Linked DNA regions of Homo sapiens. The protein of the gene in region 3 purifies or fractionates together with the protein of the main gene of each other region. This does not show direct contact. Each region holds a gene or a part of one and is shown on either strand. Other genes may lie near its edges. The genes, in order: ANAPC16, ANAPC2, ANAPC7 and CDC27.

Region 1 (7,021 bases), on a different chromosome or scaffold from region 3:
GCAACTTGCTGATCTGTAAGGAGTCAAGGAAAGAATATTATGCAACAACGTATTACCCAAGAGACTGCCACCAGCCACCAAGATGATGACTGGTATAAAAATAATTTCTAGGCCGGGTGTGGTGGATCACGCCTATAATCCCAGCACTTTGGGAGGCCGAGGCGGGCGGATCACGAGGTCAAGAGATCGAGACCATCCTGGCCAATATGGTGAAACCCCATCTCTATAAAAATACAAAAAAAATTAGCTGGACGTGGTGGCATGCGCCTGTAGTCCCAGCTACTCGGGAGGCTGAGGCAGGAGAATCGCTTGAACCCTGGAGGCAGAGGTTGCAGTGAGCCGAGATCGTGCCACTGCATTCCAGCCTGGTGACAGAGTGAGAATCCGTCTCAAAAAAAAAAAATTTCTAGATGGATTTTTTTTTCTCCTCAAGATTCTCTCTCTTTTTTTGGGGGGTGGGGTGGGGGTGGGGAATGGAGTCTTGCTTTGTTGCCCAGGCTGCAGTGCAATGGCGCGATCTCGGCTCACTGAAACCTCTGCCTCGTGGGTTCAAGTGATTCTCCCGCCTCAGCCTCCTGAGTAGCTGGGACTACAGGCACCCGCCATCGTGCCCAGCTAAGTTTTTTATTTTTGTAGAGATGGGGTTTCACCATGTTGGCCAGGCTAGTCTCGAACTCCTGACCTCAGGTGATCTGCCTGCCTCAGCCTCCCAAAGTGCTGGGATTACAGACGTGAGCCACTGTGCCCGACCCTCAAAATTCTCATAATGGGGTCTTATTCTATGCTGGTCAGAAGCTTAATTTTTTTTTTTTTTTTTTTTTTTTTTTGAGACAGAGTTTCACCCTTATTGCCCAGGCTGGAGTGCAATGGTGTGATCTCAGCTCACTGCAACCTCTGTCTCCTGGGTCCAAGCGATTCTGCTGCCTCAGCCTCCCGAGTAGCTGGAATTACAGGCATATGCCACCATGCCTGGCTAATTTTGTATTTTTAGTAGAGATGGGGTTTCTCCATGTTGGTCAGGCCAGTCTCGAACTCCCGACCTCAGGTGATCCGCCCGTGTCAGCCTCCCAAATTGTTGGGATTATAGGCATGAGCCACCGTGCCCGGCCTATTTTTTTTTTTTTAAGTTGGAAGTTTCTTCTAATGTTAAAAGAAGAAAGGCTGGGCGCAGTGGCTCATGCCTGTAATCCAAGCACTTTGGGATGCCAAGGCAGGCGGATCACAAGGTCAAGAGATCAAGACCATCCTGGCCAACATGGTGAAACCCCATCTCTACTAAAAATACAAAAATTAGCTGGGCGTGGTGGCGTGCACCTGTAGTCCCAGCTATTTGTGAGGCTGAGGAAGGAGAATCACTTGAACCCAGGAGGCAAAGGTTGCAGTGAGCCGCGATCATGCCATTGCACTCCAGCCCGGGTGACAGTGAGAGACTCCGTCTCAAAAAATAAAAGTCATTTTAAAATAAAATGATCACATTTTCAGGATGTGCCCTATTTTTTTCCAGAGACAGGGTCTCACTCTGTCACCAAGGCTGGAGTATGCCTCCTGGGCTGAAGCGATCGTCCCAACTCAGCCTCCCACGTAGCTGGGACCACAGGCATGCACCACCATTCTCCACTAATTTTTGTATTTTCTTTTTTTAGATATGGGGTTTCACCATGTTGCCCAGGTCAGTCTTGAACTCCTGGGCTCAAGCAGTCTTCCTGCTTCAGCCTCCCAACGTGCTGGGATTAGAGGCATGAGCTACTGCACCCGGCCTGGATGTGCTCTGTTCCTAAAAAAAGTACTCATCCTCTATGCCATAGTGATTTGTGGACTAAAATCCTAGGGTTAGAGGCAATTACAGCTTTTCCCCCTACATAAAGTTTCAATGGAGAAATGGTCTGGAGGGGGAACACAGTTTGTTGATGCAGAAATGAAGGCCTGGTGAGGCCTAATGTAACAGAAAAAGTGTTATCAGGATGTTAGAGTATAGACAGACCAGGAGGTATCGTACAAATACTTGAAGATGATGATGGTAACCAGTGGAGGACAACAGTAAAAGGAGGTTTCAGACAGGAGAGGAAAAAGTAACACAAGAGGAGCAGGAAGCACTGACTCCCTGGAGGACCAACTTTTTTTGTTTTTCAGACAGGGTCTCTGTTGCACAGGCTAGAGTGCAGTGCTGTGATTCCGGCTCATTGCAGCCTCAACCTCCCGGGCTCAAGTGATCTTCCCACCTCAGCCTCCCAAGTAGCTGGGACTACAGGTATGCGCCACCATGCCTGACTAATTTTTTCTTTGTAGAGATGCAGTTTCACCATGTTGGCCAGGCTGGTCTCAAACTCCTGACCTCAAGTGATCCACCCGCCTCAGCCTCCCAAAGTGCTGGGATTACAAACGTGAGCCACTGCACTCGGCCCCAACCTTAAGCCTCAATGTGGACATTATGACTAGATTAAGACCTAGAATGTTCTTTAATTTAGGAAGTCCACTAAAATAGCCTTGCTGAGTTTGGGGATTTTTGTCACAGCCTCATCCACCCCCTAGCAAATTTATTCTCACAGTCAAGTACGCAACACTCATGTGCTTACCATGTTTCACCTGTTTAAGCGTGGATGCCACTTGATAGCTAAAAACAGATTCGCAGAGGAATCTCTCAGAGCCATCTACAAACAAAAGGAGAAAAGGTTTTAATCTGCTCTAAAGGTTTTATGGCTTCTGATAAACCAAGTAAACTTGTCTATTCTTTTCCCTGCTTGTACATTCAGGGTCTAGTTCTCAGTGTTTACAAAGACGGGTTCTGCTTCATTTAGAACTAAGACTGTTATAAAAGCTATTTATTCTATACCTAGAATATTAAAATAGTCCCTCTACTTAAGAGTTTAAAAATAGTGTTTAAAAAAACAAAAACAAGAAACCTCCGTCTGATGTCCTGGTCAACACTTCCCTCCTCCCAACCTGAGAGTTCCTTAATGTTCTCCTGTATGTCAAGCAAACACTGGCAGCTGACACATTTGGCCTTGTGGCTGGCTCCTGTAGTGTCAAAATATAAAGGTTCACCAAAACTCCAAATCATTTTCAGTCTAAAAAACAAAGCTGAGGAAAAAATTGTTGATTTTTAATATATCAAATTACATCACTCTGACAATCACAGAACACTGCTGGGAAATTTCATTCTGTGAACGCAAACTGTAACCTTGATTTTCCAACTGAACCAAAACACTGCAATTTGGATGACGATAAGAGTATGGTGCAAGTTCAGAACCTAGAATTGTACTGGTGCCAAGAACTGCCAACAAGAAGTGGCCAACTCAGTTGCCACAGCACTTGGAAGATGATCATGAAACATAAGCTAGTTCATGTTATTCCTTGTCAGGCAAGGGCTGATACAGCAAAACATATTCTCAAAAATTTACAGCTCACGTAGAAACATTTGATTTTTAAAAAGGTAGCAGAAACCATTTGGGGGATGTACCTTATTGCGAAAATCCTAAAACAAACGGGGAGAGAGGACACAGCTGTCCTTTTTCAGGCAGTACTTCACGTTAGCACTACTAGGCCTCAAGCATTCACCCATCAATCATGGGTTGTTGTGTTGGCCAGGTATTACATGGCAAGCAGACAGGACTAACACATTCTGGCCTCATGCTGAGTTTCACACAAAGGAAACCTTATTTCAGAAGTCACAATAACCAATTAAAAAAAAAAACAACTATAGATACTGTATCCAAAGAGCTTGAATATATAACCAAGAGGGCATCCTTCCAATATCATCTTCAAAGTGATCAAAAAAAAAAAAAAAAGAGAAAAAGAAAAAAATGAAAGTATAATTATTGGGATGTATACTTTTTGTATTCTTCAGAGACAGTGTTACATTCTGTAAATTCAAACTCAGTCTCAAAAAAAAAAGGGGTTTGAATGTCAGCAGTCATTATCCTATTCATATTCTTGCTTAAAAAGTCCAATTATAACTCATATTTTATTTTAGAAAGAGGAAAGCATAGACAATTAGAGTTTACCTCCCAGATGGTTTGATCCTGAACTTTAGGATTACACACAAGGCAGTGGGAATTATAGGCTATAAGGATCAGGCCAAGATGTATATGGAAGCTCCTGAAAGTGCCACCTCTCACTTGCATTTAATCACAGGCACCATTAGGATAAAATAGTTAAGTTGTGATATTTGCATATTTTCCTTGGTAATGAACTTCAAAGCAAAAGGATATAAGCTAAACTTTCAAAAAGGAACCTCTGCATTTCACTCCACCACACTATATGCCTGTGGAACACACTTTTGCTGATTTGCAGCTCCCTATTAACGTCCAAGTCCAATTGCTTCTTAGCCACATCCTATTAGATGTGGTATCAGTACCAGTCTAAAGCCTGGAATTGCTCCAGAACGGAGTCAGCTGGGGGCAATCTCTTCCATTTAGAAACTGTAATCAAACCCTTTGTAACACAGCAGGTAGCAATACATCAGCTTTCCTTGTCAGGGACAAGCACAGGTCATAAACAGGGAAAAGTTTAGTAAATTACCCAAATCTAACACCATAGCCAACTCCAATAAATAAGGATGGTAACAAATACATTAAAAAGAATATTACCTCACAGTAGGCAATTAGACAATGCCAGATAATTTATACTTCAGTGGCTACAATGTCTCTAAAATACAGCCACTGATGGGCTGGAAGGCAGTTTCTAATGTGCTCAGTAATAACTGGGTGAGGACAATTTTGGCCAAGGGCAGGAGAATGCTGCAAACTGCTGTATGCTGCTTATGTGAGGTGTCTGTTATCAGAGAGCAGAGGCACAAAAAAGTTAATTCACAAGGTTAACTACAGGTGATTTGGGTTTACTATCCTAGACTCACAAGGATGTAACATCAAGTTGAACCTTTTGAGATTAAAAACAGCATCCATCCTTGATTCCTAACTGCTTTTGTTCCTTACTCTTGACAGGCAACCCTTCCTGCTCTATTTTCATATCCTTTTTTTTTTTTTTTAAACCAAGTCTCGCTCTGTCGCCCAGGCTGGGGGGCAGTGGCATGATCTCGGCTCACTGCAACCTCCGCCTCCTGGGTTCAAGCAATTCTCTCAGCCTCCTGAGTAGCTGGGACTATAGGCACACACCACGATGCCTTTTTTTTTTTTTTTTTGTATTTTTAGTAGAGGTGGGGTTTCACCATATTGGTCAGGCTGGTCTCGAACTCCTGACCTCAGGTGATCCGCCCACCTCGGCCTCCCAAAGTGCTGGGATTACAGGCGTGAGGCACCGTGCCCGGCCTCTATTTTCATATTCTATTAAACTATTATTGGTCAGGTACATGTGTGTTAGATTTATTGTATAATAGAATAGTATCACCTATAAACATGGTAGAAAATGCTTCCAAATCCAACATCCTTACATTTCAGAGTACTCTTCTCAATTTAATATTCTTGATTTGACCAAGAATATTAAATGGGTTTAGGGGTTGCCATCTCTACATTATTTTTCAGTCTTTAAGTGTAATACTCTTTATATTCTTAAGATTTTAGATTTTTAAAGATTATCTTAATCTTTTTAAGATTTAAGATTATTGGTAAAACTTGAAATGTAAGAAACACAATCAAAACTGTGCACTGTGTATTTATACTTAATATAAATGTATCCTACAACAGAAACACAACACATTTCTCCATGAAGCATATTGAGATGGAATAAAAATGGATAGATCTATAACTCGTTAGAACATCAACATTCAGACTAATCTCAGAAGCCTTTCTTCTTCAATATCTCCACATAATTTGATGTATACTGACAAAGAATGCTGATAGCTTTGAGACTGTGGAGGTACCTCCTGTATTAAATTCCTCTTATAGCTAGAATTTAAATGACTTTAATCTTAGAGCTCCATTGTTGAATATGGATTCTTCTGCTGCTATAAAACTCATTAAGCAATTTAAGTGTCTCCCATTTTTGATTTGTTTTGTGGGAAACTTCCTTAATACTAGGTCTTTGCTGCATATAAATGAAGTCATAATATAGTTTTAGCACCAAATATGGTAACAGGGCCCCAATTGTTCACTACTTCTAACCAGACTCAGTGATACTAACTTGAGTATTTAGTTAACACAATTAAAGAAAATAAAAAGGCAAAGAGAGAAGTACATGTATCACTAATTACATATGCTACCTGGTCATCTACCTCACCACTAGTCATAACCCAAACCAATCCTAGGGAGCTCTATGGTCCCAGAGTCCCCCCGTGGTTTCCTGTCACAAATGATTTTGGGCTTAACCCGTAACTCTTTTTATTATTTCTGATTATTCATCACCCCCAAGGCCAACTATAGTTTGTATCTTTTCTTTTCTTTTTTTTTTTTTGAGACAAGGTCTCCATCACCCAGGCTCGAATGCAGTGATGCGATCACAGCTCACTGCAGCCTCCACCTCCCAGGCTCAGGTGAACCTCCCACCTCACCTTCCTAAGTAGCTGGGACTACAGCCACGTGCCACCACACCCAGCTAATTTTCTATTTTTTCTAGAGACAGGATTTCGTCATGTTGCCCAGGCTGGTCTCAAACTCCTGGGTTCAAGCAATCTGCCTGCCTCAGCCTCCCAAAGTGCTGGGATTACAGGTGTGAGTCACTATGCCTGGCCTATAGTTTGTATCTTTCTCACAGATATTCCTAGATTAGTTTTAAAATATAGTTGTGTAAATTTGAAATATTAAGGCCAGGTGCGGTGGTTCATGCCTGTAATCATAGCACTTTGGGAGGCTGAGGTGGGCAGATCATTTGAGGTCAGGAGTTCAAGCTCAGCCTGGGCAACATGGCGAAACCCTGCCTCTATTAAAAATATTAAAAAAATTAGCCAGGTGTGGTGGTGGGCACCTGTAATCCCAGCTGCTTGGGAGGCTGGGGCAGGAGAATCACTTGAACCCGGGAGGCAGAGGTTGTAGTGAGCCAAGATCGAGCCACTGCACTACAGCCTGGGCAACAGAGCGAGACTCTGTCTCAAAAAAAAAAAAAAATTGCAACACTTAAAGGAAAAAAGATC
Region 2 (7,157 bases), on a different chromosome or scaffold from region 3:
ATGTTCACCCTCTCCACCCTACTACCCACTCTTGCCCACCGCTTTGGGGACACCCTCCCTCTTTGAAAACCCAACATCACAGCCAATCTGCACCTCAGTAGGGGGACTCTGAAACACTGAGGAAAGGACAGGTGACACATGGGAACAGGATGGGGGGACCCACATGGCTGGGCCCAGCTCCCCTATGGCTCCGGGAGCCCAGAGCAGAGCCCCAGACCACACCCCAACAGCACAGGTGCCTGGAGGCCCCATGTGAGGGTGTCTCGCTCCCCGCTGTGGTGCAGGCTGGCTGTAGGTCAGTCCATTAGGGACCGGCCAAGCGAGTCCACACTCAAGTAGGGCAGCAAACAGGAGAAGGGGATCCATTCAGTGGCTCCTCTGGTGGGCCCAGCTTCGCCACACCTGCCTGAGGTAGCCCCCTCGGGATCCTGGCCCGATACCGCCTGCAGCCATGGGATTCTGCGCAGATCCGAAGAGCGCACCTCAGATGCGTCCTCGCTATCACCAGGGCCCAGAAGTACTGGTCTCTACCCCACATCAAGACAGCTCCAGCCACCACCCGGTCTGGGCCCACCCAGGCCTCCGTGCTCTGGATGCTTCTGAAGCCAGGTGTCAGGTTTGCCAGAAACCTACTCCCCTGTCTCCAGCGGGGCACAGCCCAAGGGAGGGGTCCTCACCTTGTGGAACTCACGCAGGAAGGAGCGCTCGTACTCGCCCCGGCAACGGTCCTCCATCCTCTCCCGGGTCACCTGGTGCAGGGTGGTGGTCACAGCCTCGGCACTGACCCGCTCCAGCAGACTGAGCCTGTGTCTAGAGGAGAGCCCTGGCCATGGGGCACCCAGAGCACACACCGGCCCCTCTAGCCCAGAACAGCCCCATGCCAGGACTGCCCTGCCTGTAGAGTGCATGCAGCACACACACACACACACACCCAGCACACACCTCCCCACAATCCTCAGCTGTGGGGGGCGGTTGTACCAAAGGCTTCAAGAAGCCACTGGGAGCACAGAGCACTCCCAGGCTCTGCTGTCCCCGCCCAGCTGGCCTCTATCCAGGTAGGGACACTGGCCTTCCCCATGTGATCAGTGGCAGCAGGTGTGGCTGTCGGGGGCCCTAGCCTTATCTCCTAGGATCAACTCTGAAACGACAACCAACTGCACTGCTACCCTGGCCGCAGAGGTACAGATGCCACTGTTTGTGCCTTTCAGTGCAGTCTCTGGTCTACAGTGACAAAAGGACTCAAGAGGAGGATGAGAAAAGTTGCCGTGTAACTTTTGCAGGGATGAGCCCAACAGAAGCCCTTCACGGTCTCCCTGACCCCTGCCAGCAAAAGGAGCACTCCTTTAGTCCACCTTTAGTCCACCTAAGACCTCTCAAGTAGCTGCATGGCTACACCCCCGTTCAATGTGACAAAACCACCACAAATGGCCAAGGGTATGACAATTGCTAGAGAACTACAACAGGACCTGTCTCTCACAACAAACCCCTCTCCTCTCCAAACTAACAAGAGACTGCTTGCCCTCACAGTGACCTGATCTTCCTGGAGAGAAGCAGCAGCAAGCTTCTGTTCACAATTACAGGGCAAGGAATGTCGACGAGGGTGAGAATCATTCCTCCCCAGGATCGACAAAAGGCACAGTGGAATTCTGCAGAGTCCAGGAAGTTTGGAGTTGCTAAGAAATTTGCTGCTGCAGACACAAGCCACATAGGGCCTTACCAGGGTCAAGGCATGAATCTGTGGGACTGAAGGTGAGTGACAGAAGAGAGACACCTGTGTCCAGGACACGCTGCACAGGAATCCCTGGGACTCTCTCTCTGTCATGTTCCTGGTTATCAGGACGGCTCACCAGCTTTCTGCTGAGGCCAGCTGGACCCAGGGGAGCAGCGGGGAACCAGAAGGAGCAAGGGCATGGCCATCGGGACAGACTACTCACAAGACCTGGCTGAGCTGATGGAACTGCTCCAGAGCCTGGCGACACCAGCACTGTTGCTTGTCACTGCTGCACCCTGCACACAGCGGGCTCTGCAGGAGCCGGTAGTACCGGCGACGGGCATACCGGCTGTCCAGCTCCCCTTCCAGTTCCGGGTCTGTGCCCCCTTCCCCCTTCCTCTTACTCTGCATATAGACTCTCAAGAAGCACCCATACAGACGCTGGATCATCTCTTGGAAGGTTCTGGGGGTGCTAAAGAACAAGACTCCGCGCAACATAGTGTGGACTTCTTCTCGCAGCCCCTGAGCACCAGTGCCCATCAGCAAGCCCAGGCGAGTCCATTTCTCCAGCAGCTCTAGGCTACGCAGGTAGGGATCCAGGCGGCTCTCCAGCAGGCCAAAAGCGTCAAGGAGTAGCAAAAGGCACTGGGGCTCATCCGCAGAGTTCTCGCATTGGGAGATGGCATTCCAGAACTCAGGGGAGATGTTGGCCTGCAGATCGTTCTGCAGCACCTCCACGAACCACTCCTCCAGGACCGAGTGTAGCCCGTGGCCCCTCAGAACCTCCACCGCCGCCCGGAGCTCCTCTTCCTTTGGCGGGACTGCACCGCTGGTCCGGGAAGACACCTGGGGTGCAGAAAACCGTGAGGCGAGGGGAACACAACATAGAGGTGGGGAGAGGCGGGGAAGGGAAGAAGCTGAGGGGGAGGCTGCAAAAACTCCGCTGCCCCCTGTCCGTGCTGCCCGGACGTTGGGCCGAAGCTATGGAAGGGCTGTCAGCGGAGCTGAACGAAACGAAACGGAAAGGTGGTGGAAAATGGCAGGACAGGACAGAGGCGGATGATGGACAGAGCCGTATGAACCCGAGGGTAGCGGCCCCAAAGCGCGTACGGTCCCGGAAACTCCGCGCGGGGCCGCCCCTCTCTTCCCAGGCCTCACCAGCCCCAGCGCAGCCGGCGGCACCAGGCCGGTGCTCACGGTGTTCCAGGCCACTAACAACTCCTGTCCGGGCCGGGAGTCGCTGTCCCCCTCCGCCACCACAACTGCCGCCGCCATCTGCACCCACCGACTCCGAGATTCGCTCGGCGCGGCGCGCGGCGATGACGCACGTCTGCACGCGCAGCCATGACGCGCACAAGGCGCTCAGCGATGACGCGCTAGTTCGGCGCGCCGTGGGGGAGTCGTGCGCAGGCGCGGACAGCGCTGCTTCCGCGGCGGTTGGGGTGGTGGGGCCCCGGGCGGCGTTGACCATGACCCAGCAGGGCGCGGCGCTGCAGAACTACAACAACGAGCTGGTCAAGTGTGAGCGGCGCAGCCGGGACGGGGAGGTCGGGAGGGCCGCAGGGCCGGGTTCCCGGCTCGCAGCGGGGTGCCCCTGGACCCGCCTCGCTGCGGGCATCGCGCGGCTGAGCAGAGCCCTCCGTGCCGGAGGCCGGGTGTCCGTGGCCCGAGCCCTCGCTGGCTCGCAGGCCCCGCGCCGGGCGCTCGGGGGTGGTGCCTGACTCTGGCTTCCTCGGGTGGAAGGAGGCCCGCCCTCCGCCGCCGCGCTCCTGCCCTGGGCCCACAGCGCCGCCCCTCCCGGCCCCCAGGCATAGAGGAGCTGTGCCAGAAGCGGGAGGAGCTGTGCCGGCAGATCCAGGAGGAGGAGGACGAGAAGCAGCGGCTGCAGAATGAGGTGAGGCAGCTGACAGAGAAGCTGGCCCGCGTCAACGAGAACCTGGCACGCAAGATTGCCTCTCGCAACGAGTTCGACCGGACCATCGCGGAGACGGAGGCCGCCTACCTCAAGGTGGAGCTCGGGAGGCCAGGCCGAGCATCAGGGGATAGGCACGGCAGGGGTGTTGCCACGGCAAGGCGTCAGGACCGGCTGGGGCTCCCGGCTGTGGGCAGTCTGTGCCTCGCTGGCATTTCGGGCAGGGGCAGCGTGGCCAGGCCCATTGAGGAACCCAGGCTGCTGTGGGAGTGACTGTGGGGCTGTCTGTGGGGCCTGGGGCATCCTGGGTCCTGGTCTTTATCCGGTTCTCGCTAGCCATGTGGTTATTTCTGCTCAGTGTGAAGAGCCAGGTCTTGGGCAGAGCACCCAGCACGGGCCAGTGCTAACCCAGCCTGGCTTTGAGGGTGGAGAGGAAGTGTTTTGGGTCAGATTCCGGAGGGAAGAGGGCCCTGCCACCCCGTCTGCCAGTCCCCTTGGGCTTCCGCCTTCCCCCACACAGGATCCCTTGGCTACAGCACCCCCAGCCAGGTCCCAGCACCTGAGTGTGAGGACAGCTGGGGCTTAGGACCTTACCAACAGGTGAACATTAACAACCTTCTCACTTCTCTGGCCCCAGATCCTGGAGAGCTCCCAGACTTTGCTCAGCGTTCTCAAGAGGGAAGCTGGGAACCTGACCAAGGCTACAGCCCCAGACCAGAAAAGTAGCGGCGGCAGGGACAGCTGACCAGACCACGGGCAGGGCCTGCCTCCGTGTGCCCCTCAGCTCAGCCCCAGCAAGTGTGTGCTCAGAGCATCTTTGTTCTTCACGGCAGCAGCTACCTTCCCTCACTGTCTCAGGTGCCGAGAGGGGCAGGTGCCAGCCTCCACTGGCATCAGTGACAAGCCCAGGGCACAGCCCACCCGGGGGTCCTCGCTTCATGCTCACACAGGCTATGGGGATGGTGGGCTCCAGGTCAGCTCTGCAAGGGGCTTGTCTCTGTGGCACCCACACTCCTGCCCTGCCAGGGAGGCTCTGGTTGTCTGAGCACCATGGGGGCCCCCTCACCTTGTCCCTCCTCAGCCAGCAGAGGCCCAGGGCAAGGGACAGGAGGACAGGGGTTCTCCTTCACCACAGAACCCAAACCTCAGGTCTCACCCCTGTGGCCTGTGATTATGAATAAAGATTATCTTTGTAAAGATCCGTGCCAGCCTGCTGCTTGCCCGTATCAACAGCATGGGGCTGCCAGACACCTGCAGAGCCAGAGCCTGAGGCTCCCCCTTGGGAGAGGAGGGAGGAGGGTCTGGAGTGGCCTCCCTGTGACTGCCCCACTAGCCTCAGGGACACCGCTGAGGGTGCCCACCCTCCCCAGGCCAGCCCCACCCTGAGCCCTCCCCAGCAGGGCCGCCGGTCCTCTTCCCCTGACTGGCCCACGGCTCACCCTCCTCTCAGGAGCTCTGCTTGCTCGTCCTGTTCTCTGCCACACCCTGGTGGCCAGCATAGGACCCAGCCCAGAGAGACAGCTGGGGATGCCAAGCATATCCAGCAGCTGCCTCAGATTCAGGTCCCTCTCAGCAAGGACTGGGGGGAGTTCACACCCCCCACCCCCGTCGGTTCCTCAGTTGCAAGTTTTGCTTGGCCTGATGACACCACTGCTGCCACCAGGCCCTGCTGCCCACCTTTCCCTGGCCGCACACCAAGCACTGGCCACTTCCATCCTTCCATGTGCCCTGGGGCCTCTGTTTTGTCCCTGCAGCAACCAAGCATGGCCCGAGGACTGGGCCGATTTGGGAGGCATGTGTTGATCCAGAGGGTCCAGAAAAGAGCTGGGCCTAACCCGACCAGGGAAATACACCAAACTCTCCTTCCGCCGGAGTTTGGCCAGACAGCATCTCTTTATCTCTTTGCTCTTAGGTTTGATCCTCCAGGGAGGAAATGGTGCTTGGGTTCCATGGGCTGTAAACAGCCCCAGCTCTGGCCGTCTGAGGCAGGCGCTGCTCCCGGCCTGCCTCATCCTGTGGGTCGGGGGGCACGCCAAGCCCAGCAGAAGACACCGTCCCCTGTGCTGCCCTCATGCTGCCCTTCCCTTGGTCCCTCCCCAGGCTCTGGGCCCCTCAGAGAAGCCACTTCAGGCCCAACAGCTGCAACACTCTCACCCTCCCACCTGAAGTCTAGGCCCCTGACAGCAGGCCTGTCATCCTACCTCCCACAGTGCCAGCTCTGGGAGGCTGGGGTGGAGGGGCAACAGGTTAACAGGCCATGGAAGTTGGGAGGTCAGAGCCTTGGCCACTGGGACATCAAGGAGTGGGGGTACCAGATCGGGGTCACCTCCCACACACCCTGGCATAGACGTGCAAACTGGGGCCCACTGGACCCCATGTGGCCTCTTCCTGCAGAGACCTCCCCCTGCTCCCTTCTCAGCCAAGGACCACGCAGTGGGGACACCAGCAGCCTTGTCCAGTGCTGTTTATTGAGTCCATCATCAGAGGCAGGAAAGACGCCACTCATCACAGAGGGCATGTGGGCTGCGGGCAGGGGCTTAGGGTCCTGCAGAGGACAAGTAGCTGGGACAGCCCTTCACCCCGACACCCCATGGCCACTGTGAGGCAGGCTGAGGAGACAGGACAGGGAATGGCCAGGTGCAGAATCTGCACAGCCCCCTGCCGGGTCGCAGATGGCCACCACCCAGCAGGCCCCTGGCACTCACCCACAGGCAGTTCCCCACCCCACTTCCCCCTTGGACCCTCCCAAATCAGGGCCGGGGAGTGAGACCCAGACCTGGCCCCGATGGCAGGAGGCACCCTAGCTGCTTCCAGGGCCAGGAGGGGTGGGTGGGATACAGTGAGGCCAAACAAGGCAGAAGCGGGTGCAGTAGTCCCTGGCTACTGCCCAGCTTCCGGGACTCCCACAGCTGGGCTCAGCCTTGGTCCTGGCAGTGCTGGGCTCAGAAATACAGGGCTGGCTCGCTGCGGAAGTCCGAGAGGTCATTCTGACTGGCGGGTGTGAGCTGAAAGTGAGAGGACAGAATGTGGACACATGGGCTCGCCCGGGTGTCAGACTCCCCCCAGCGCTCCACTCCCCCGCATCTCACCATGGCCTCCACGGGCGGGGGCTCTGCCTCCCTCGGGGCCTGCTCCAGCGCCTGCTCCTGCCACTTGCTGAAGGCCACAGAGTGCTTCGGGGTGTAGCTGGACAGGCCTGTGAATGGAGGTGCACATGCAGACGTGGACACAGACCAGGCTCCACCCCTCCCAGGCTGCCTGTCCCCCAGGTGGGCACTCACCTGAGCTACCCTCTGGCAGCCGAGAGCTCTCGGGTCTCACGCTGCTCACAAACGTGGCCCGGGGCAGGAAGAGTGCAAAGGGCTTCTCCTCTGAGCCGGATCCCTCTTCCTCCTCTTCCTCTTCCTCCTCCTCCTCCTCCTCCTCCTCCTGCTGGTCCACCTCTTCCTCCTGCTCTAGGGAGCTCTCGGAAGGGTACTCAAATGTGGTCTGCAGGCTTTTGTCGTTGAAGGAGATCTTCATCTGGGAGTGAGA
Region 3 (7,021 bases):
TCCAAATTTTATTTCTCAAATTTGAACTCATCTTCCTGTTAAGAGCAAATCACTCCTAGACTCCTAGGTTTATTTTTAAATGCTTATAAAAATATGTTTTGGAGGAACTGCATCTTGTAAGATCTATTTTAATGTCTGTGACTGAGTCACCAAACGTTGCTGAAACTGGCACAGCTCCTTTGAACTCCCAGGGTCAATTCACATGAACTTAAAATATTACATAACAAAACAAAGTTGGACCCTGATTGTGCCCACTCTGGAGGTCACAATGAACAGACCCATTCCCACAGCCAACACTATCATATGGATGTGGAGTTATCCCACGAGTACTAACTCTGGCCCAAGGTAAGATGGCCACGAAAAAGAATAGGCCTAACAGGCCATGTACAGTGGTTCACGTCTGTAATCCCAGCACTTTAGGAGGCTGAATTGGGCAGATCACTTAAGCCCAGGAGTTCGGGACCAGCCTGGCTAACATGGCGAAACCCCATCTCTACTAAAAATACAAAAATGAGCTGGGTGTGGTGGTGTATGCCTGTAATCCCAGCTACTCAGGAGGCTGAAGCAGGAGAATCACTTAAACCCGGCAAGTGGAGGTTGCAGTGAGCTGAGATTGCACCACTGCACTCCAGCCTGGGTGACAGAGTGAGACTCTATCTCAAATAAAAATAAAAAAAATAGGCCGGTTGTGGTGGCTCATGCCTGTAATCCCAGAACTTTGGGAGGCCAAGGCAGGCAGCTCACGAGGTCAGGAGTTCGAGACCAGCCTGGCCAACATGGTGAAACTCCATCTCACTAAAAAATACAAAAATTAGCTGGGTGTGGTGGTGGGCGCCTATAATCCCAGCTACTTGGGAGGCTGAGGCAGGAGAATGGTTTGAACCCGGAAGGTGGAGGTTGCAATGAGCCAAGATCATGCCACTGCACTCCAGCCTGGGTGACAGGGCGAGACTCTGTCTCAAAAAAAAAAAAAAAAAACAGGACCCGGGCACGGTGGCTCACGCCTGTAATCCTAGCACTTTGGGAGGCCGAGGCGGGCGGATCACGAGGTCAGAAGATTGAGACCATCCTGGCTAGCACGGTGAAACACTGTCTCTACTAAAAATACAAAAAATTAGCCAGGTGTAATCCTAGCTACTGGGGAGGCTGAGGCAGGAGAATGGCATTAACCCGGGAGGTGGAGCCTGCAGTGAGCCGAGATCATGCCACTGCACTCCAGCCTGGGCAACAAAGCGAGACTCTGTCTCAAAAAAAAGAGGAGTAAGAGAAAAAAAATAGGCAAACTAAGTGATCTTGCATGGTGTCTGACACAGAGAGATTCATATTAATGAGTACGCCACACTGGATGGGGGCGAGCGGTGGGAGGACAAAAAAAAAAAACCCCATCCCAACTATACCCTCACCAAAAACCAGAAAAAAAATCAGAAAAAATGGATTATGAAAGTATGGGGTGACAAATCCAGTGAAAGCCCTAAATAAATGTAAAATGCCTAATGCAGTGGTTCCCAAACCTGTCTGCACATTGGTAACCCCTGGGGACCTCCAAAAATATCGATGTCTATTCCCAATTCCATGTATTTCCATCTACACTGGAGAGACCCAACGTCAGGATATTGAAAAGCTTCCCCGGATGATGTTTTTTTGTTGTTGTTGTTGTTGTTTTAATAGATGGAGTCTTGCTCTGTCGCCAGGCTGGAGTGCAGTGGCGCAATCTTGGCTCACTGCAACCTCCGCCTCCCAGGTTCAAGTGATTATCCTGCTTCAGCCTCCCAAGTAGCTGGGACTACAGGTGTGAGCCACCATGCCCAGCTAATTTTTGTATTTTTAGTAGAGACGGGGTTTCACCACGTTGGCCAGGATGGTCTCAATCTCTTGACCTCATGATCTGCCCGTCTCGGCCTCCCAAAGTGCTGAGATTACAGGTGTGAGCCACCACGTCCGGCCAGCTTCCCCAGATTATTCTAACAGAGTTTGGGAAGTGCTGGCCTAATGAAACCTTCCATCTGAGGGCTGCTGCCACACCCACGGATTCACACCATTCACCTATGTTTTCTTTCTTACCTTCATAACAATCTAAGCGACAAGGTGCGAGCCGTATGGCCTCCCGAAAGTGGATTATTGCTTCTTGGACTCTGCCCATGTTCCTAAGTGCTGCTCCCTTAAGTAGCAGAGCTTGAACACTATTACTGTTCAGCTGAATGGCCTTGGCTCCTAAATAGAGGGCCCGGGAGTAGCGTTTGCTATAGAAGCTGTGACAGCTGGAGAAAAAAAAAAAAAAAAAAACACAAAAACCCCAGAAGTTATCCAAGAGAAGACTACAAAGAAAGTTGATCCAAAAATCATATTGAAGGCCCTGAACATAATCCTTATTCCAAACCACACTTATAGTTTTAACCTAAGATATTAGTAGAAAAGCAAAACAAACCAAAAAATCCACTATTTATTTTTAAGGGGAAATCTTGATATGGAAGAGAAAAATTATGAAAAAGAACCTATGATCTGGATATTAGTTATTAGCAGAGAGGCATTCAGAGAATTTGTAAAGCCAGGTTAATAAACAAAGGAGCATCTTCTGGCCCCATCACTGATGGCTCAGTACTAAGCACAATGCATTCACCAACTCAGTTAATGCTTAACCCTAGAAGGAGAGGTTATTAGCCCATTTTCCAAATGAGAATACAGACCTAGATAGGTAAATAATGCATCCAGAGTCATAAACTATTATTTGAATCCAGGGCTGATTATCCTTTTAAAAAAAAAAAAAAAAAAAAATATATATATATATATATATATATATATATATATTTATAGAGACAGGGTCTTGCTACATTGCCCATGCTGGTCTCAAATTTCTGGCCTCAAGTAATTACCTCTTTTTATTTTTATTTATTTATTTTTGAGACAAAATCTCACTCTGCCGCCCACCTGGAGTGCAGTGGCACGATCTTGGCTCACTGCAACCTCTGCCTCCTGGGTTCAAGCAATCCACCTGTCTCAGTCTCCCAAAGTGTTGAGATTACAGGCATGAGCCACCATGCCTGTCCAGGTGATTACCTCTTAAACCTGTGCTTTCAATTTATATTCTCTTCAAGAGCAACCATTATCTCTTAATCTACTGACAACTGGGGAGAAAAGAGAATGCATAATCATACCCAGAAACCACCCACGGTTCTGCATGCTGATCAGAGATATTGAAAAGGCGGCATCCAAGGTTCTCAACATCCTCTAGCCGCCCTTCTCGTGCCAGTAGGTAGCCATATACATCCATTCCTAGAAGAGAAGGACATAGTGAGAAGAGGTGTTTTAAGAAGAGAAGCAGGGGTCCCACATACAGGAGTAGCACCCAACATCAGACCCCATGCTGAGGCCCCAGCTCCTGCAGGGGCTAAGCCCTTTCCACCATCACAGGCTCCTCCAACTACTATTTCCAGTTTCCTACAAAGTGACTATTAAAATGCAAAACCCAGGTTGGGCACAGTGGCTCACACCTGTAATTCCAGCACTTTAAGAAGCCGAGGCAGGTGGATCACGAGGTCAGGAGATCGAGACCATCCTGGCTAACACGGTGAAACCTCATCTCTACTGAAAATACAAAAAATTAGCCGGGCATAGTGGCACGCGCCTGTAATCCCAGCTACTTGGGAGGCTGAGGCAGGAGGATCACTTGAACCAGGGAGACAGAGGTTGCAGTGAGCCGAGATCACGCCACTGCACTGCCTGGGTGACAGACTGAGACTCTGTCTCAAAAAAAGAAAATGCAAAACCCAGCTGGGCGTGGTGGCTCACACCTGTAATCCTGGCACTCTGGGTGGCAGAGGCAGGAGGATCACCTGGGCCCAGGAGTTCAAGACCAGCCTGGGCAATATGGTGAGACCCTGTCTCTAAAGAAATTTTAAAATATCAGCCAAGTGGCCAGGTGCAGTGGTTCATGCCTGTAAACCCAGCACTTTGGGAGGCCAAGGAGGGCAGATCACGAGGTCAGGAGTTCGAGACTAGGCTAACAGGTGAAACCCCATCTCTACTAAAAATACAAAAATTAGCTGGGCATGGTGGCGTGTGCCTGTAATCCCAGCTACTCAGGAGGCTGAGGCAGGAGAATCGCTTGAATCAGGGAGGCGGAGGTTGCAGTGAGCCAAGATCGTGCCACTGCACTCTAGCCTTGGCTACAGAGCGAGACTCCGTCTCAAAAAAAAAAAAAAAAAAAAAAAGAAAAAAAAAAGAAAAAAGAAGGGCCAGGCGCGGTGGCTCATGCCTGTAATCCCAGCACTTTGGGAGGCTGAGGCAGGTGGATCACGAGGTCAGGAGTTCAAGACCAGCCTGGCCAAGATGGTGAAACCCCGTCTCTACTAAAAATACAAAAAATTAGCCAGGCACAGTGGCAGGCGCCTGTAATACCAGCTACTCGGGAGGCTGAGGCAGGAGAATTGCTTGAACTCAGAGGGCGGATGTTGCAGTGAGCCGAGATTGCACCACTGCACTCCAGCCTGGGCAACAGAGTAAGACTATGTCTAAAACATAAAATAAAATAAAGTAAAATAAAATAGAAAGAAAAAAAAATTAGCCAAGCACAGTGGCACATGCCTGTGGTCCCAGCTACTCAGGGGGCTAAGGCAGGAGGATTGCTTGAGCCCAGGAGGTCAAGGCTGCAGTGAGCTATGTTTGTGCCACTCCCGCCTGAGTGACAGAGTGAGACCCTGTCTCTAACAACAAAACCAAAACCAAAACCAAAGGAGGCCGGGCACGGTGACTCATGCCTATAATCCCAGCACTTTGGGAGGCCGAGGTGGAAATTCAAGACCAGCCTGGCCAAGATAGTGAAACCCCATCTCTACTAAAAATACAAAAACTAGCCAGGCGTGGTGGCACACACCTGTAATCCCAGCTACTCAAGAGGCTGAGGCAGAAAATTGCTTAAACCAGGAGGTGGAGGTTGCAGTGAGCCGAGATTGCACCACTGCACTCCAGCCTGTGAGACTCTGTCTCACAAAAAAAAAACAAAAAAAAACAAAAAAAACAAAAAACCAAAGGAGCAGAACAACCTACCTCACAATTTGAAAGCCTGCTATTTTCAGGAAGTGCTTGTCCTTCTATCCTGTGGTGTGATACACAGCTACCCTAACCCAACCAGAAAAGGCCCAAAAAAGGCATCAACTAAGGTCTCTCTTCCCAGAGTTCTAGACCATCAGAAATACACTGCTGAAAAGCCAATCAGTCTCAGAAAAAGTTGGCCTATTCCAGAAAAAAGCTTGTAGTTCTATCCAGAATGCAGTTCATTAAAGATCACTGCCTCGGGCTGGGTGCAGTGGCTCAGGCCTGTAATCCCAACACTTAGGGAGACTGAGGCGGGTGGATTACCTAAGGTCAGGAGTTGCAGACCAGCCTGGCTAACATGGTGAAACCCCCGTCTCTTCTAAAAAAATACAAAAATTAGTTGGGTGTGGTGGCGGGCGCCTATAATCCCAGCTACTCGGGAGGCTGAGGTGGGAGAGTCACTTTAACCAGGAGGCGGAGGTTGCAGTGAGCAGAGATTGTGCCACTGCACTCCTGCCTGGGCGACAAGAGTGAAACTCCGTCTCAAACAAACAAATAAAAAATCACTGCCTCTCCGCAGCCCCCGCTTTATTCTCACCCACATTCTATAAAAAGGGACCTATGCTCACTGTTACCCATCTCTTGCCACCATTCTCTTCCATCCCTTGCTATCCCTTCAGATTCCCATGAAAATTCCTCTCAAGCCAAGATTACTGCAATGCTCCTGCTAGCCCCTGGGCCTGGGTCTGAGATTCCAAGCTGCCATTGCCATTCCAAGCTGCCAGCTGTTGCCAGACTAGTATTTCTAAAACATCATTTTCATCATGGGTGCAGGCAGCTTGGAGAAGAGGAATAAGCACTTGAGGTGAGGGGAGATCTTGTGCAAACAAATCCATCCTTCTAGATCTGCTTCCTCATCTAAACGCTTGGGATGGCCCCTTCCCAGCTCCATCATTCCCCTGGCTTAAGAGCTCATAAGACTGTTTATTGTCACAAGGCCCTGTTTTTCTGATGGCCTTTTTTGGACCTTTACAAATAGACAGCATATCTATCTGACCTTATTTCCCACTATTCCTGAGAACTCACTGCCAGTGTCCTAACTGCCATCTGTTGGAGGTCCCTGTGAAGATTACCCTTCACCTGCAATCTTTTTCAAGATCAGTGATTTTTCTGTTGTTCACGCCTAATTACTGCCTTTAATCACCTTATCCCTTTCTTATTCCTTTTTAATTATACTAAGGACATGGCAAAACAAAATTCCCTAAAAGGATATTATGGTTTTAGGGATGCCATCCAAATTCTCAGTCAGGCACACCATAAATTTATAAGTCATAAGGAGGAGCTATGACCCCCTCAAAAGAAAAAAAGCCAAATAATGATCTGTGGGGAGAAGACACTTGAATTCAAGCAAAAACAGCTGCTCAAATGGTATTACCTAAGCGTTAGAGACATGTGTCATGACCTAAAAAAAGTAAAAGACTAGTATAAGTTTTATACACCATTTCTATGAAACTTGGTATCGAGTATTAATGCTGCATATTCTCCCTATTATCTCTGATCCCCCCCAACAACAGCCACTGTCTTCCTGCCCCAAGAATTACTTACCTTTTATCAGATAAGGATCCAACATCTGTGCCTGTTCAAACTTGAGGACAGAGTTTTTATTGTCTCCAGCTCTGAAGTACAGATCTGCCAAGCTTCCCAATAGGTCCACGTTATCTCGCAATAAGGATTTTTTCTCTAGTGAACTTTAAGATATTTATTAAACATTGAACCTTTAAATCTATTATAAATCCTCTTAGTTGCTGAATCTGGATGATTGGTCATACAGATACTATTTTCTTTTGCATAAATATAAAATTCTTCGTAATAAAAAACTTTAAGCTTATGACTTTAAAAAAAGTTATATAGGACAGGATAGCAAAAACAAAGAATAAAGCAGAAGTCTCTCAGTACCAACAAATAACTCTGTGGTTGCAGTTCTTCAGAA
Region 4 (7,849 bases), on a different chromosome or scaffold from region 3:
TCTTTGAATCCATGTTAGATGCTGTCCCTGAACATTTTATCCCCAGCCAAGAGTACTCCTTCACCATCTAATGATCTCTAAAACAGTATCATGTATATAGTACCCAATTGCTATATTGCTTATTAAATTAATTTTCGAAAGGCTTATTTACAACTTCATCCAACACTTCTGTGAAGTCTTACCCCTAGGAATAATTGCTAAATCTATATAAAATCTCTTTGCTTCTTTTTTAAAAACCAATTTCACCAGGTGACTTTTATAAATATTCAAAAAGCTCTCACTGAAGTCACTTAGGCTAGTGTGTCTTTCCAAATAGTTACCATTAAAAATAAAAGAACTGACAGAAATTCTGCCTCATATGTGAGACTTTTGTAAGGACTCAAATATAAAGTAATACTCTTCTGAGAGGTAGTAATTTGAGACGGAGTTTTAATTTAGGCATATATGGTATATCGGACTGGCCATTCTACATTAAAACTTTAAAGAAAAAAAAATGCAGAAAACAGTTCTTCATATTTTCTGTGAACTTTTTCCTATGCCTAGTAATACCATCAACTCTGAGGCATTCCAAGAAAGAACAATTTTCCAACTTACTCTCATTGCTTTCCAAATACACGCAATCTGTCATCATAGTTTTTTTTTTAATAAAGACAGTATCTTATATATCTGTCCTATTTTTATTCTCTTCCTAATTCTTTCCCATTTGCAGCACTATCCCTGATCATTGATCTTTATCATTGTAGCCAAAGTTGCTTGTTCTTCTCACTGTTCCAAATCCATTCTTGAATGGCTTCTTATACTATACAACCAAAATTTTCACCTAGTCATATCCTAAAACTTTCTACCACTATCTCAAAAATCTAATGGACAATGCTGCTATGAAAAAGAAGCAAATTTGACATTTAAGCCTTAAAAATATCAAAGTGTATTACTGCTCAGAGTACTTTAAGGACAAACAGGAAACCTGATGGGTACTATCTAGAAACAGGCTACATATTCCTTTTCTTTTCCATGCTTTTATTTTTTATTTATTTATTTATTTTGAGATGGAGTCTCACTCTGTCGCCCAGGCTGGAGTGCAGCGGGACCATGTCGGCTCACTGCAAACTCCATCTCCTGGGTTCAGGCAATTCTCCTGCCTCAGCCTCCCAAGTAGCTGGGATTACAGGCGCCCACCACCACGCCTGGCTAATTTTTTATATTTTTAGTAGAGACAGGGTTTCACTGTGTTGGCCAGGCAGGTCTCGAACTCCTGACCTCAGGTGATCCACCCGCCTCAGCCTCCCAAAGTGCTGGGATTTCAGGTGTAAGCCACCACGCCCGGCCTTCCATGCTTTTATAAAGTCTGAAATTATTATTAAATGGTGGTTATAGTCTATCAATGCAACTAGTTTATCACTTTAGAAGACTTCTGGGGCCAGAGAAGGCAAAAAAAAAAAAATCATTAACTATTAAAACAAAATTATAAGAATATGCAACAGAAATTAAATAACTTGAGTAATCTGCTTATCTATTTAAGTTCATGTTAGGCCTTAAAAAATTATATATATATAATTACCTCATCTACAGCCAGAATAAAAAAAAATCTTAAAAGAAACTATACTGGTAAAAAGAATTTGGATGGAAATAGCTCTAGAAAAACTAATACAACTTACAGACAGGTAAATTTCATAAGATATAATCTTACGTTTTATTAATTCAAACACTAATAGCTGCTATATGTAAACAGCTGGAGAAAAAAACCAAACTAGAAGAAATGAGTATTTCATGCTGTTTAGAAAAATGAAATAAATATGAAAGTAGTGATATATTAAAATATTTACTGTTTGATACCTCAAGCCTTTTAAGGGCAATATGAAGGAATTTCTAAAAATCAGTTTGCTTTATAACTTCAAAATAAAGTCCATGACTCAATGACAGCAGTTGATAGAGGTCAATTCTGATCAAGTTAAAGATCATATAGTGGGATGAAGTCTCCCAGACCTGGTCCATTACCAAGGCACAAAAGATACAGTTTCTCCAGATGTCAGGGGGGAAAATGACTTGGCACCGCATCACACACTTAAAATCCAATAGGGTTCCTTTAATGCAACACAGCACTGTGCGTCAAAGCATACCCTGGTGTAAAGGCAGTGAAATGGACAGAAACACCATTATTTGTGTTTCATTTCCTGAATGCCTTATAAACATGCACAACAAAATGCTCCTGATCCCCATCAGAGAGGATGAAAACAACCCAAATGTGCCCTTTCCACCTCCTCCCCTGGTATTGGTGCTTGCGCCTCAGCACTGAGGCTTGGAGTTGTCTTCTCAAACCATCATTGTCCGGTGGGAAATTCACCGAGAAAGGAAACGTGGGATAGGAAGTCTGTTACCAAAATAGAAATTAGTATTAAAAAGACCGATCCTACGCTCCCTCCACCCTCTCATACAAGACAAAATAAAAAAAACCTCCGTAAACTTGCCCTACCGTCACGAAGATCACACAAGCTCCGATCAAATGTGCTTCTCGATCATCTTTTAGGCAAGAGAGCGCTTGGGGTGCATTTTCGGCCCCTCATCTCCCACCCCCAGTCAAGCCAGGCCCCTGGACTGACAGGAAAGGCTGGCCGGACGTTGGCTCGGACGGGAAAGGCGGTTATTTTCGCCGAAGCCGCTCACGCTAAGGGTGAAGTAATGTAGGGCCAGAGGTAACACGGCTTAGGCTGTGGGCAAGGCCTCCGAACTGACTAAAGATAGGCAGGACACGGCAGCAGGGGAGGCGGGAGAAGCAGCCGGGCCTAGGCCGCACCAGGCCGCGGAGTGGCCCTACGCTGCTGCTTCCCGACCGAGGCTGCCAGCCAAGCCCCAGAGAAGAAGGTTATCATTACCTGGACGGGTTCCTGCAGCACCGTCATCCTCGAGGCTCAGGCCCACTTTCTGCAGTGCCTCAGGCCCCCCCTGTAGCGGCTCCGGCCCGGCCAGCCCCTGCTCATTTAAACTCACCAGCGACCGTTACCGGGGGATGGGGGAGGCCGAGCGATTGCCGAGTGCTTCCGAGCGGGACACGGGAATACCCGAAGTGGAGAAAGCCGAGCGGGAACCAGACGGAAAAGCCCGAAGGGAGTCGGAAATACCCGAGGTTGGTCGACGAGAGAGAAAACCGTTGCCGGAAATTGTCGAAGATTACCGGAAGCTACCGAGTCTGACCCAAAGCGTAGGTTTCTCTTCTCAGCCACGCCTTCAGCCACGCACACCACGCCCAATCGGCCGTCCCAGGGTTGGGCTACGCCAAATCTGCAACCAGCAGGCTGGGCGTGGCGTGACAGCGCGGGCGGGTAGCGTTACGTGGCGGGGCTGCAGTGTGGATTAGCCCCTCAGCCCTTTTGGATTAATTGGTGTGCTGTAGATTATGAAGCAAAGGGTGAAACAGCAGAGTTTGGGGCTGTCTTTAATGAATCAACAAGTATTTGTCTATTGAGTTTAGATCATTCGTCCATTCCAGAAGTATCTACTCACGGCTCTGGGGGAAAGCTAAAGAAATTTGGAAAGATTGCCACTCCCCAAAGACATAGGATAGCTTCTGTCTTCAAGGAGATTAAGGTCTATTTAAGGGAAAAGCAGTGTAACAGAGAACGCTATATTATATGGTGCCTATTATAAGTAATATAAAAATTCAGAGAGGGCAATTGTGATAAGATAAGGAAAGTTCTATGGAAGGAAAAAAAAGTTTAAAATGGAGTTTGAAGGATGGGTAAAATTAGAGGAAAAAGAAGTATAGGAAAGTGAAGGGAGGAAAAATGGGATCAGTCTGCTAAGAAGGCATTAATTGGAAATAGTTACTTAGGTGAAGAGATCATGGAAAAGCTCAATAGGCCATTAGAAATTTTTATTTTTGATAGGTGAGGCATTCCGCTGTGGTGGGAAGAGTAGGGGGTCGGAAATTCAGAGGCCTGGTTTTGAATTTTATCTTTAGCACTAACTAGTCATAGGTCCTTGGCAAATTACCTCTCTGAACTTATGTTCGCTTAGTTTGAAAAAAAAGGATTAAGAGAATTCGATGTATTATAAATGTGGCCGTGTCTAGCATGCAATGTAGACTCTCTCATATTTCCTTTCTGCTCCCCTTCTCCCCCCAAAAAGAGTGAACCAGGGGACTGTTTAAATTTTGTTTTTCAGCAGATGAGGAAACAGTTTTTGAAAGTTACTTTTCTAGTCAGGAGCTCTCTAGGCTAGATGTGAGAATCATGATATATTCCATTGCTTGGAAATTTCCCTTTGGGTGATGTTAGAGGGAGATATTTTTTCTTTCATTTTTAAAAACAAGGCTGACAGAGCTACACTGCATCCTTCTCCACCGCCTTGTCTTGTCACTGTATATATACTTATAGCCCCTAAAGGGCAGGTGCTAAGATGATTTTTGGCTGCCCTGTGCCCAGTTGCTTTAGCGGGATTATGCTGGATGACTTGAGTGGTAACAGACTTTTACACTGGCCTGGAAAGTAGCCATTAGCTATTTAAAGTTTAAGTTAAAATGAAATTAAAAATGAAGTTCTTCAGATGCCCTAGCCACATTCCAAGGATTCAGTAGCCCTGTATGTGGCTAGTGACTGCCATATTGGACAGTCACACAGATATAGAAGAACATCACCAGCACTGGCTTGGCTAGGGCTGAAAGATTCAAGATGGCTTCACTCACATGTCTAGGGTGTCAGTGGTAGCTATTGGCTGGGTCCTTCATTTCTTCTCTGCATGACCTCTCTTTTCACACTGGCCTCTTATGAGTCAGTAGTTTAGCTCCAGCTTCTTGACTTGGTGGTTGACAACAAAGTGCGCAAAAATAGAAGCTGTGAGGTCCCTTAGGCCTAGGCCTGTGAGCATCACTTCTTGTTGGTCAGAGTAAGACTCAGAGCCACCCTGGATTCACCAGGAGGAATAGTCTACTTCTTAATGGGAAGAGTGGCAAAGTAACACCACAAAGGGCGTGTGCCATGGGAGGAGTTTTTGGGTCATCTTTGGAAACAATCTACCACGCTAGATATGAGATGAGAGTATCTAAGATTGGGAATGGAAAGAAAGGGATAAGTAAGAGCTATCACTCTTAAAATGTGACCCTTTCAACTGAACACAGTACTCCAGATTTATTCTGAATAATTCAGAATGCAGTTGGACTATTATTATCTGGACACGTCTATTAAAGTGGACTACAGTTGTATTTACATTTTTTTTTTCCGAGACTGAGTCTTGCTCTGTTGCCCAGAGCTGGAGTGTAATGGCGCAATCTCGGCTGACTGCGTCCTCCGCCTCCGGGGTTCAAGCAATTCTCCTGTCTCAACGTCCCGAGTAGCTGGGATTGCAGGTGCGCACCACCACGCCCGGTTAATTTTTGTATTTTTAGTAGAGACGGGGTTTCACCATGTTGGCCAGGCTGGTCTCAAACTCCTGATCTCATGATCCACCCATCTCGGCCTCCCAAAGTGCTGGGATTACAGGTGTGAGCCACTGTGCCCAGCCTGTATTTACATTTTTTAGCAGTCACATGACACTGTTTGCTCATGCTAAACTTGTGTGGTCATTTACGGACTCAGCTCTTTTTCACACAACATGCTGCCAACCCAAGTCTTGTATGTGTGCAGCAGAGTTTTGTAAACCTAAATATAGGACCTTACCACAGAGGATACATAAAGATGATACTTTGTGAAAATATGGATCTAGAGTCAGCATTTAAAGAGCCTCTGATGCTTGGCACTCTGGCTTATAGGCTTAGAATTTGCCTAAAGCCTTTTTTCTTTTTTTAACCTAAAAAAGAGCATTTCCTGGCTGGGTGAGGTGGCTCACGCCTGTAATCCCAACACTTTGGGAGGCCAATGCAGACGGATCACCTGAGGTCAGGCGTTCCAGACCAGCCTGACCAACATGGAGAAAACCTGTCTCTACTAAAAATACCAAATTAGCTGGGCGTGGTGGCACATGCCTGTAATCCCAGCTACTTGGGAGGCTGAGGCAGGAGAATCGCTTGAACCTGGGAGGTGGAGGTTGCGGTGAGCTGAGATTGCGCCATTGTTCTCCAGCCTGGGCAACAAGAGCAAAACTCCGTCTCAAAAAAAAAAAAAGGCCAGGCGCGTTGGCTCACGCCTGTAATCCCAGCACTTTAGGAGGCCAAGGCGGGCAGATCACAAGGTCAGGAGATCGAGACCATCCTGGCTAACACAGTGAAACCCCATCTCTACTAAAAATACAAAAAATTGGCCGGGCGTGGTGGTGGGCACCTGTGGTCCCCAGCTGCTGGGGAGGCTGAGGCAGGAGAATGGCGTGAATCTGGGAGGCGGAGCTTGCGGTGAGCTGAGATCGGGCCACTGCACTCCAGCCTGGGTGACAGTGCAAGACTGTGTCTCAAAAAAAAAAAAGCATCTCCTTTCTGATTGTTGTTGACCAGGCTAATACATCTGTTGTGGTTTCTACTCATCCACAGCAAAGCCACATTGTTTGAAGTACTTTGATGGGGTATTTTGGAGTGTTTTTACTTCCTTCTCTGCTCCTAATTGACCTACTTAAACTCGCTATTCATCAACCACTTGGGCATCCTGCTGTCATCCGTTATCCAATATGTTTGGCTAGTGAGTGGAGTTGGGTTACAACAGCATTATTCCAAAAATGGAATTGGAAAATTATTTTTTCTCCTAAGCCTGCTTCTTGGTCTATTTCATATTCAGTCAGATTTGGAGGCTGGCATTTAGGGAACTATTCAAAAAGCTAGACGTGATATCAGTAGCAAAATGTAGGTCCCACTGAAACATAGCCCAGAGTAAGTGTACTCTCCTGAAGTCTTTCAGTCCTCCTTGTCTGTACCCTTCATTTTGTCCCTGTTGCGTGCGGTTTTATGGCCTCCTTACCTGACCTTGCACCCCACCACCCCCACCCCACCCTCACCATGTTTACTCTTTGGTCAAATCATCCTCTTCTTTTGGCTTCTCTAATGACACCATCTCCTAGCTTTCCTCCTACTGCTCTGTTTTTGTTTGTTTGTTTGTTTGAGAGAGTCTCGCTCTGTCACCCAGGCTGGAGTGCAATGGCGCTATCTCGGCTCACTGCAGCCTCCGTCTCCTGGGTTCAAGCGATTCTCCTGCCTCAGCCCCCTGAGTAGCTGAATTTACAGGTGTGCGCCACCACACCCAGCTAATTTTTGTATTTTCAGTAGAGACGGAGTTTCGCCATGTTGGCTGGGCTGGTCTCGAACTCTTGACCTCAAGTGATCTGCCTGCCTCAGCCTTCCAAAATGCTGGGATTACAGGCATGAGCCACTGCGCCTGGCCTACTGCTCTGTTTTTTAATCGGTTTCCTTTGCAGCTCCTCTGCCAGCCCCTTTAATATTAAGCATGCTTCAAGGACCTGTTCTAGGCCTTCTTCTCACCCACCCTACACATTCTTCTTAGGCAAAACTATCCTTTCTTTCTTTCTTTCCTTCCTTCCTTCCTTCCTTTCTTTCTTTCTTCCTTTTTCTTTCTCTTTCCTTTCTTTTGAGACAGAGTCTCACTCTGTCACCCAGGCTGGAGTGCAGTGGTGTGATCTCAGCCCGCTGCAACCTCCACCTCCCAGGTTCAAGCGATTCTCCTGCCTCAGCCTCCCGAGTAGCTGGGACCACAGGCACACGCCACCATGCCAGGCTAATTTTTGCATTTTTAGTAGAGATGGGGTTTCGCCATGTTGGCCAGGCTGGTCTCCTGACCTTAGGTGATCCACCCACCTTGGCCTCCCAAAGTGCTGGGATTACAGGCGTAAGCCACCATACCCCGCCCCTATCCATTCTTGTGGCCCCAGTTTCTCATCTACAAATGGTTTGAAAAATTTGTATCTCCAGCCAGACTACTTT

The links.
Region 1: the proteins of ANAPC7 (region 3) and ANAPC16 purify together in Homo sapiens (affinity purification with mass spectrometry; 6 studies listed by BioGRID and IntAct, with this or other methods). This does not show direct contact.
Region 2: the proteins of ANAPC7 (region 3) and ANAPC2 fractionate together in Homo sapiens (co-fractionation; 6 studies listed by BioGRID and IntAct, with this or other methods). This does not show direct contact.
Region 4: the proteins of ANAPC7 (region 3) and CDC27 purify together in Homo sapiens (affinity purification with western blotting; 23 studies listed by BioGRID and IntAct, with this or other methods). This does not show direct contact.

The regions. Positions count from the first base shown.
Region 1 is NC_000010.11:72,225,993-72,233,013, reverse strand, and holds part of ANAPC16 (anaphase-promoting complex subunit 16), read right to left. Parts: intron 2,649-7,021; coding exon 2,574-2,648; intron 14-2,573; coding exon 1-13. UniProt on the Homo sapiens protein: Component of the anaphase promoting complex/cyclosome (APC/C), a cell cycle-regulated E3 ubiquitin ligase that controls progression through mitosis and the G1 phase of the cell cycle.
Region 2 is NC_000009.12:137,185,547-137,192,703, forward strand, and holds the start of ANAPC2 (anaphase-promoting complex subunit 2), read right to left. Parts: upstream 3,015-7,157; 5' UTR 2,987-3,014; coding exon 2,870-2,986; intron 2,558-2,869; coding exon 1,935-2,557; intron 811-1,934; coding exon 678-810; intron 1-677. Other genes in the region: microtubule nucleation factor SSNA1, read left to right, coding at 3,181-3,232, 3,520-3,719, 4,261-4,368; TPRN (taperin), read right to left, coding at 6,566-6,628, 6,713-6,819, 6,905-7,145. UniProt on the Homo sapiens protein: Together with the RING-H2 protein ANAPC11, constitutes the catalytic component of the anaphase promoting complex/cyclosome (APC/C), a cell cycle-regulated E3 ubiquitin ligase that controls progression through mitosis and the G1 phase of the cell cycle.
Region 3 is NC_000012.12:110,379,691-110,386,711, forward strand, and holds part of ANAPC7 (anaphase-promoting complex subunit 7), read right to left. Parts: intron 6,780-7,021; coding exon 6,637-6,779; intron 3,271-6,636; coding exon 3,153-3,270; intron 2,259-3,152; coding exon 2,062-2,258; intron 1-2,061. UniProt on the Homo sapiens protein: Component of the anaphase promoting complex/cyclosome (APC/C), a cell cycle-regulated E3 ubiquitin ligase that controls progression through mitosis and the G1 phase of the cell cycle.
Region 4 is NC_000017.11:47,186,276-47,194,124, forward strand, and holds the start of CDC27 (cell division cycle protein 27 homolog), read right to left. Parts: upstream 3,021-7,849; 5' UTR 2,898-3,020; coding exon 2,871-2,897; intron 2,608-2,870; exon of another isoform or gene 2,471-2,607; intron 1-2,470. UniProt on the Homo sapiens protein: Component of the anaphase promoting complex/cyclosome (APC/C), a cell cycle-regulated E3 ubiquitin ligase that controls progression through mitosis and the G1 phase of the cell cycle.